3 separate regions of the Homo sapiens genome follow, and all the other regions are linked to region 3. The links come from fine-mapping of genetic effects on gene expression. A gene starts in region 3. Each other region holds a variant in brackets. All regions are shown on one strand. Distances are from middle to middle. Region 1 overlaps LOC100507002 (a long non-coding RNA gene). Region 2 has its middle 22 kb from the start of RGS9. Region 3 holds the start of RGS9 (regulator of G protein signaling 9).

Evidence for each region. PIP is the estimated chance that this variant, and not a neighbour inherited with it, causes the effect. A credible set is the group of variants that fine-mapping cannot tell apart.
Region 1: its variant is the best candidate, but not a certain one, in a credible set for the expression of RGS9 in thyroid (GTEx, PIP 0.55).
Region 2: its variant is the best candidate, but not a certain one, in a credible set for the expression of RGS9 in subcutaneous fat (FUSION, PIP 0.74).

What each region holds. Positions count from the first base shown.
Region 1 is chr17:65,105,822-65,108,585 of GRCh38, reverse strand. The region is part of intron 2 of LOC100507002 (a long non-coding RNA gene); the gene reads right to left. Among named protein-coding and RNA genes, the nearest start is that of RGS9, 30 kb to the left of the region's middle. The variant A/C (reference allele first, on the strand shown) is at 1,512.
Region 2 is chr17:65,114,032-65,116,795 of GRCh38, reverse strand. No RefSeq gene overlaps it. Among named protein-coding and RNA genes, the nearest start is that of RGS9, 22 kb to the left of the region's middle. The variant T/C (reference allele first, on the strand shown) is at 1,462.
Region 3 is chr17:65,135,760-65,138,523 of GRCh38, reverse strand. RGS9 (regulator of G protein signaling 9) reads right to left here and starts at 1,154. Exons shown (of 19, transcript NM_003835.4): 1 at 927-1,154. The coding sequence starts at 983. RefSeq lists a silencer at 965-1,464.

The DNA of each region.
Region 1 (2,764 bases), 30 kb after region 3:
TCAGCCAGGATGGTCTCGATCTCCTGACCTCGTGATCTGCCTGCCTCGGCCTCCCAACGTGCTGGGATTACAGGCGTGAGCCACCGTGTCTGGCTGCCATTAATCATAATTCTATGCACCATTGTATGAGCCCTCAGTTCACAAAGTCCTTTTAACATATATGCACGTAGCCGTCCTCAGAATGAGACCACTGGTTTTTCTAGCCTCAGTGAAGCTGAAAAATAGATGATGTCAGCTGTGTGACACTGGACCAGTTAACTGACCTCTCTGAACCTTAGTATTTTCATCCACTAAGGAAAAAAACATCTAATATCTGCCCTATCTATTTAAAAGGGTGCTTGTGATCAAATGAAAATAATGAATATGAAACAGTTATATAATCCCTAAGGCAATATAGGAACAGTGACAATAGGGTGGGAGTGGTAGTGATAGATGTTATCATTGTCACAATATGCCTTCTAGGGACCAGACAGTAAAGACACATAAGAAAAACTCAGTTAGACAACCTAATGCAAAGAGTGAGATTTAATTGAATACTTTTTATGAATCCAGTGGCATGACTGCTACAAATAAACAACATAATCTTTGTCCTCTGGGAGCTGAGGTGGTAAAGTATATAGAGAGAGATGACCAATACACAGCACAGAATAAAAATGTGTCTCATGTGAAGCATACAGATCCTAATTGCACAGGAGCTGAAAAGGGACTGTGATCACAGGATGCTTCTATAGGTTTGAGTGTGTCCCTCAGAAGTCCATGTGTTGGAAACTTAGTTGCTAATGTAACAGTATTGAGAGGTGGGGCCTTTTAAAAGGGAATTAGGTAATAAGGGTAGAGCCCCATAAGTGGATTAATGCTGTTTGTGAGTGAGATCATTTCCAAGGGACTGAGTTAGTGCCCTGAGGTGTCTTTTGCGTGCACTCACTTGCCCTTCCCCATTTCTGCTGTGTTATAATGCAGTATGAAATCCCTTACCAGGGGCCAGGCATGGTGGTTCACGCCTGTAATCCCAGCACTTTGGAAGGCTGAGGCGGGCAGATCACGAGGTCAGGAGATTGAGACCATCCTGGCTAACACAGTGAATCCCCGTCTCTACTAAAAATACAAAAAATTAGCCAGGCATGGTGGCAGGTGCCTGTAGTCCCAGCTACTAGGGAGGCTGAGGCAGGAGAATGGCGTGAACCCAGGAGGCGGAGCTTGCAGTGAGCTGAAATCAGGCCACTGCACTCCAGCCTGGGTGACAGAGCGAGACTCTGTCTCAAAAAAAAAAAAAAAAAAATCCCTTACCAGAAGCTGTCACCATGCCCTTGGTCTTCCCAGCTTCCATAACCGTGAGCCAAATAAGCTTCTTTTCTTTATAAATTAGCCCATGTCAAGCATTCTGTTATAGCAACAGAAAATGGACTAAGACAGATGGTCAATGAATGCTTCCTAGAGGAAGTGAACTTGGGAAGGAACCCATGATATGGCTAGGTAGACAGGAAGGAGGTGTAGACTAACCTGGATATATC[A/C]GAAGAGAGCTGAATCAGAAAAATCCTAATTGCCCCCTCCCTCTCAGGCAGCCTGCTCCTGAAGCTAGGAGGCTCCAATCTTCCCAAGGAGGGAAAGAGTATGGAACAATGTCTTATGCCAACACTAAGGAAAGGGATTTCCTATTTCAATCTCTGTTGCTAAACAAGCATTTGCAGCTGAACCACAATCTCAAGAAATGGGCCAAGATCAGGTGCACAGGGAAGGCTCTGAGGATAGCCTCACCACTCAGCATTCCGGGCACAGCGCCAGTCACTCAGACAGCGTGCAAAACACGGCTGGGGCTCCTTGTGCAAGACTGACTGCAAGCTTTATCTGCATGGACACTTTCTTGGCTCACAGAATTGTTTTGGAACAAAAGCTATTCATTTCAGCTTGATTTGGAGCCACAATCCTTGGCTTTCTGCAGTGTCAGGACTTGGCAGTGTTTCTGGCCACTGGGTCAGCCATGAGGCCAACAGCAGAGAGGGGAGCAAAGACACAACCCCACACTGTACTGGGGGATGCTGAGAGGTGGTCCTGCTCTTCCTGGGATGGCCAGGGGACTGAGGAGCCATGGCTACTGGAGTGATTCTTTTCAGCAGCAGCCAACAGCCCCGTCCTCCCCAGCACACACACACACACACACACACACACACACACACACACACACACACTGTTATGCAGTTTCTGATGACAGGGCTTAAAGCATCCTCGTCCTTTCAGTCATAACTTTTCAGATTATAAATACGGTACTTCATCGGGTAAAATAACCATCTCCTTAGTAGTGAGGCAGAGGGAGCTAACGGTGGATGGCGGAGTTGTACCTACTTTGCCAGTTAGACATTTAAACTTCTCTGATAAAAATGACAGTCACTCCATTTCTTTCCCTTTGTGTTTAAAAAAAAAAATCAATCTCTGAGGAATTTGCAACTACCCCTCAAAGGAGATTAACAGGAGTTATTTCTAAAAGCACAATCAAGAGGGGCTTTCCAGCGATGACGTCTCTGCACAAAGGAGGGATTTTCTGGGAAGAGGGGAGTCTGTGTCTTGAACATTTTTAGGGGTCTTCCCATTAGGGGACAGAATAATTTTCCTCCAACCTTTTCCCCTGTAAACTCACTTAAGGGATTCCTTTTTAAATTGTAATAAATCTCAATTACGAAAAATATGACTGACTCCTTGGGTCCGGAATGGTCTTGGAGAGGTGGTCTTGGTGGGCAAGGTGGCAGGTGACAGGTGCCTGTACTCCACT
Region 2 (2,764 bases), 22 kb after region 3:
ACGTCCTTCTTCACGTGGCAGCAGGAAGGAGAAGTGTCGAGCAAAAGGAGTAAAGTCCCTTATAAAACCATCAGATCTCGTGAGAACTCACCCATTATCATGAGAACAGCATGAGGGTAACCACCCCCATGACTAAATTACCTCATACTGGCTCCCTCCCATGACACATGGGGATTATGGGAACTACAATTCAAGATGAGATTTGGCTGGGGACACAGCCAAACCATATCAGATAGTAATGATATTTTCTTCACAGAATTATTTTGAGGATTCATGAGATGCTCTATAGAAGTTTCTGGCAGAGCACCTGACAGTAGGTGCTTAAGGAATGGTGACTGCTAAAAAAATTTGTTAACTTCGTTTTGTCCATAATTCAGTTTATTATTATTATAATTTAATAAGACAGGGTCTTGCTGTTACCCAGGCTGTCACGAACTCCTGGGCTCAAATGATCCTCCTGCCAGCTTCCCCAGTAATGACTGCTAAAATTGTAGTATTCAGTCTTTCCTCCCATACAGTTCAAGCTCTTGTTGTTGAACCAGTCATCAATGTCTCAAGCCTTTCCAGTCGTAATCTCCACAGAAGGCTAAAGCACAGCTAACAAATGGTGCAGTCAAAGGGAGGCTCTGCCCCCATGACCAGGCCATGTCTCAGAGCAGCCACAAATGACAGCAGGTCTCCAGATCAGCAACATGCAGAAAGAGAAGCTGATGGGGGTTGTGGGGAAAGGCTTCCGTCCCTCAGGGCAAAGGAAGCCAGAAGGTTGACAAAAGGACCCTGTCTCGGTTGGCCTGAAGCAGAGGTGAATTGAATTGAGGAGGACACCTTGACAAGGAGAAAAAAAAATCAAGTCACAGATGGGGCAGTCTGGGAGGGCTGACAAAGACAGCCCCATAGTGTGAAGTCACACACATTTCCTCAGGAAACCATCTGTTTGAACAGTAAGTAATGTGTTCCTAAAATACAAAATTTTGCTTCTTTAAACAGAATTTAATGTTTTAAAATATATGTACCACATTCTGCTTGTGAAAATGTATTGATCTGTACATGTTTTCTGAGTGAATACCATATTTCAATTAAAATGTATATATATATATATTTTGGTATATATATTTTAATATATATATATGCCAGGAGTGCCTATAATCCCAGCATTTTGGGATGCCAAAGTGGGAGGATTGCTTGCACCCAGGAGTTTGAGACCAGCCTGGGCAACATAGTGAGATCTCACCTCTACAAAAATTTAAAAATTAGCCAGGCATAATGGCGCATGCCTGTAGTTCTAGCTACTCAGGTGGCTGAGGCGGGAAGACTGCTTGAGCCCAGGAGGCTGAGGCTGCAATGAGCCATGATTGTGCTAGCACACCAGTCCAGCCTTGGTGACAGAGCAAGACCCTGTCTCTCAAAAAAGAAGAAAAATACCAGAATGGATGAATATATAGGTAATTATTAATGAATATT[T/C]ATTGCCAACCCAATAGGTATAATGTCTTATGGAATTTAAATATATGTGTAGAACTAAACATGTATAACAACAACACAAAATGAGGAAGGAGATAAATAAAACTAAAGTTTCCTAAAGTTTTAAATGTTTTGGGAACTGGTAAAAGTAATAATTTGTATTACACAGAAATAAGTCAAGATTGCATGTTGTTTAATCTCTAGGATAACAGCTAAAGAAAAAGAATATGTAACAAAACAATGTATAACTAACAAGCTTGAGGTAAAGAATAGAATGATAGAAAATATTTTCTTAATCCAAAAGAATGCAAGAAAGAAGAAAAACAACAGAAAACAGATGGGTCAAGCAGAAAACAAATAGAATAAACCCAACTTTATATCAATAATTACTTTACTATTATTTAAATAGACTAAATAATCCAAATAAAAAACTAAGATTGGCCAGGTGCAGTGGTTCATGCCTACAATCCCAGCACTTTGGGAAGCCAAGGTGGGCAGATCACAAAGTCAGGACATCAAGACCATCCTGGCCAACATGGTGAAACCTCATCTCTACTAAAAATACAAAAATTAGCTGGGCGTGGTGGCATGTGCCTGTAATCCCAGCTACTCTGGAGGCTGAGGCAAGAGAATCACTTGAACCAGGGAGTCAGATGTTGCAGTGAGCCAAGATCGCGCCACTGCACTCCAGCCTGGGGTGACAGAGCGAGACTCCGTCAAAAAAAAAAAAAAAAGAAAAAGACTAAGATTATCATACTGGATGAAAAATACAAAACCTAACTCTATGTGACTTCTAAAAGAGACACTTTAAATACATGGAGATCGATGATTAAAGAAAAAGGATGAGGAAAGATAGACTGTAAAAGTCTAACAAAAGAAACCAGGCATTCTATAGCAGTATGAAGTAAGATTTTGAAGCAAAAAGCATTACTAGATATTAAAAGGTACATATTATAATGGGTCAATCCAACAAGTAGATATCAAATCACAAATCTATACATACTTATAACTTCAGAATACAGAAAGCAAAAATTAAGCAACTCAAAGAAGAAAGTGACAAATCCACAATCATTATGGAAGACTGTAAGATACATTTCTCGGTAACTTATAGAGCAAGAAAATATAGTAAGGATCTAGAAGATTTAAATAACGCAACTAACAGACTTGACTTAGTTGTTGTATATGTATCAAATTCTGTACCCATAATGATAGAATTTATTTTATTTATTTATTTATTTTTTAAGATGGAGTTTTGCTGTTGTTGCCCAGGCTGGAGTGCAATGGTGCAATCTCGGCTCACTGCAAC
Region 3 (2,764 bases):
CCAGGACTGTCCAGGTTTTAGCATTGAAAGTCCTGGGCAAATCAGGACAGCGGTCACTGACTATACAAATTTGCTGAGCTCCAGGGGCTCAGGGAGAGCTCAGCTTGTCACAAAACATTCAACTAATTCTACTCAACAAGATAAGCCTAAGAAGATGGACACTACGCTGTGAAAAGTGGCTACGGGTGGGAGGAAGGACAAAGATGTGACCCGGGACCTAATCCTCTGTAGATCTCATCGGACAGTGATTATACCAGAAGCTCAGAACTAAATGAACCACTTTGTCCCCAAACACATCACCCCACAGGTGCATTCCACCTCCCACATGTCCATCCTGTGTGCACACCCTGTGCCCGGTCACTTTGTCTGGGAAAGCATTCGCAAGGGAAGCGAAAAGGTTGGGACTTCTGCCGCCAGCGCAGACAGCAGGAGATGCACAGATAGACACACTCAAATGAGGGCTCTCAGGGCATTGTAAATGGGGTGGCCCTTTATCCTACAAATCACCCCGTTTTCATGGTCTATGTGTACACACACACACACTTTAAAATAGTGCAGTTTGGGATCAGAAAAAAAAGGCAAAAATGGCAATGTCACATCTGGTCGTCTTACAACAATATCAGCAGGCTGTCTCAAATCTGCCACAGCCTGAACTGAACCTGCCTCTCCCGAGTAACAGGTTGTTTTCACCTCCCGCAGACCATCAGCGCTGGCTTCAGATTCTCCACTACAGGCAGGGCACACGAAAACCTAATTATTATAGCCATCAATATCGACACACACAGCAAAGAAGTCACTTAATAAAATCGAGCAGCACAAATCGACCCAAAGGGGTGCTCTCCACTCCTGCCCCTCTTGTCCTCGGACGCTTCGCAGATGCGGTCCCCCGCCCTCCTCCCAGGGTCCAGGTGAGGGGCCAGGGTTACCTTTTGGAGAAATGCCATCCTCGGCCTGTACTGCTGGCCTTGGTGTCGGATTGTCATCCTGGCCCCTGGATGGATTCACAGCCAGAGCACCAGTGGGAGACAAGAGGAGAAGCCCCCCAAGTTCGAAAGGCAGCCTGGCTCGCCCCAGCCCTGGGCGTCGACGGGGAGGCGGCTGGGCGGGGAGGGCGCGGGCCGGGCCCCCCTGACTCTCACTAGGCGCCGCTGACTTGGAAAGCAGCTGGAATCCGCGCCAGCCAATCCGCGAGCGGCGCCGCGGGCTCATTAGCATGCGCTGCGCGGGCGCCCACCTGCCGCCAGGGGGCGCTATCCGGCCCCCGCCGGGACCCCGCGGAGCAGCAGGTGAGACCCGCAGGGCAGGGCCCCGGGAGGAGAAGGAGGAGGAGGACCTGGCGGGAGGAGGAGGAGGACCTAGCGGGAGGAGGAGGAGGACCTGTCGAGAGCAGCGAGCCTTTTAACTTGGGGCGGAGTTATGCACAGAAGTGACACAAAGAGCCCTCACTAATACAGCGCGGTGGAAAATACGGACTTTCCCATCCCAGCTCTGCCACTAACCAGCCGGCAGCCTTGGGCAAGTTCCTTACAATCTCTAAGAATCAATGTCCTTCACTCAAAAGTAAAAATTGAAAAATGGGATCATAATATCGACCAGAAAAGGTTGCTATACCATTTTAATGAGGAGATGTGTAACACAGTGCTTGGCCCTCAATAAATGCTTAGAAAAAAAAATTAGAGGTGGCGATTTAATGACCCAATAGCAGAGGAATTGCTAAGATGTGGGTTTAAAAAGAGAGAGCAAAGAAGTGAAGAAGGAAGAGAGGAAGGTTGTAGTCCTCACCGGGCTAGCTGTCTGGATGAAGCGAATTATATTTTACTTCTCTGATTCTTAGTGTTTCGGTTAGTTGGTTGTTGGGTTTGTTGTTGTTTAACTTTTTTTTTGAGACAGGGTCTTGCTCTGTCACCCAGGCTGGAGTGCAGTGGCGTAATCATGGCTCATTGCAGCTACAACCTCCCAGGCTCAAACAATCCTCCCACCTCAGCCTCCCCAGTAGCTGGGGCTACAGGCACGTGCCACCACACCCCGCTAATTTTTACAAAAATTGTTTGTGGAGAGGGAGTTTCACAAACTCCTGGGCTCAATCGATCTACCCACCTCGGCCTCCCAAAGTGCTGGAATTACAGGAGTGAGCCACTGCAGCTGGCTGGTTTGCTTGTTTTAATAGACTTTATTTCTTAGAGCAGTTTTAGGTTCACAGCACAATTGAGCGGAAGGTATAGGGACACGTCATATATCCCCTCTCCCCACGCACGCACAGCGTCCCCCATGATCAACATCCTCCACTGGAGTGGCCCATTTGTTACAATTGATGAACCTACCTTGACAGCTCATTATGTTAGCGTTTTCATCTTGAGAAAAATGCAAGGATGAAGCCTCTAAGTTATTATCAAGAGCCTTTCTGCTTTGTTATATAAAGCACTTTCTCTTAAACATACTCGATGGTTATTGAGTGTAGCAGATAAAATGTTTAAGTTGGAAGAAAACAAGAAGGCCTTTACCTTAGGAAGGCACAGTCAACCAATGTCCCTTTAAAGCAGTGGTTCTTGGCTGGGTGTGATGGCTCACGCCTATAATTCCAGCACTTTGGGAGGCCCAAGCGGGTGAATCACTTGAAGTCAGGAGTTCAAGACCAGCCTGGCCAACATGGCAAAACCCTATCTCTATTAAAAATACAGAAATCAATCAGCATGGTGGAGCAACCTGTAATCCCAGCTACTCAGGAGGCTGAGGCACAAGAATCACTTGAACCCAGAGGCTGCAG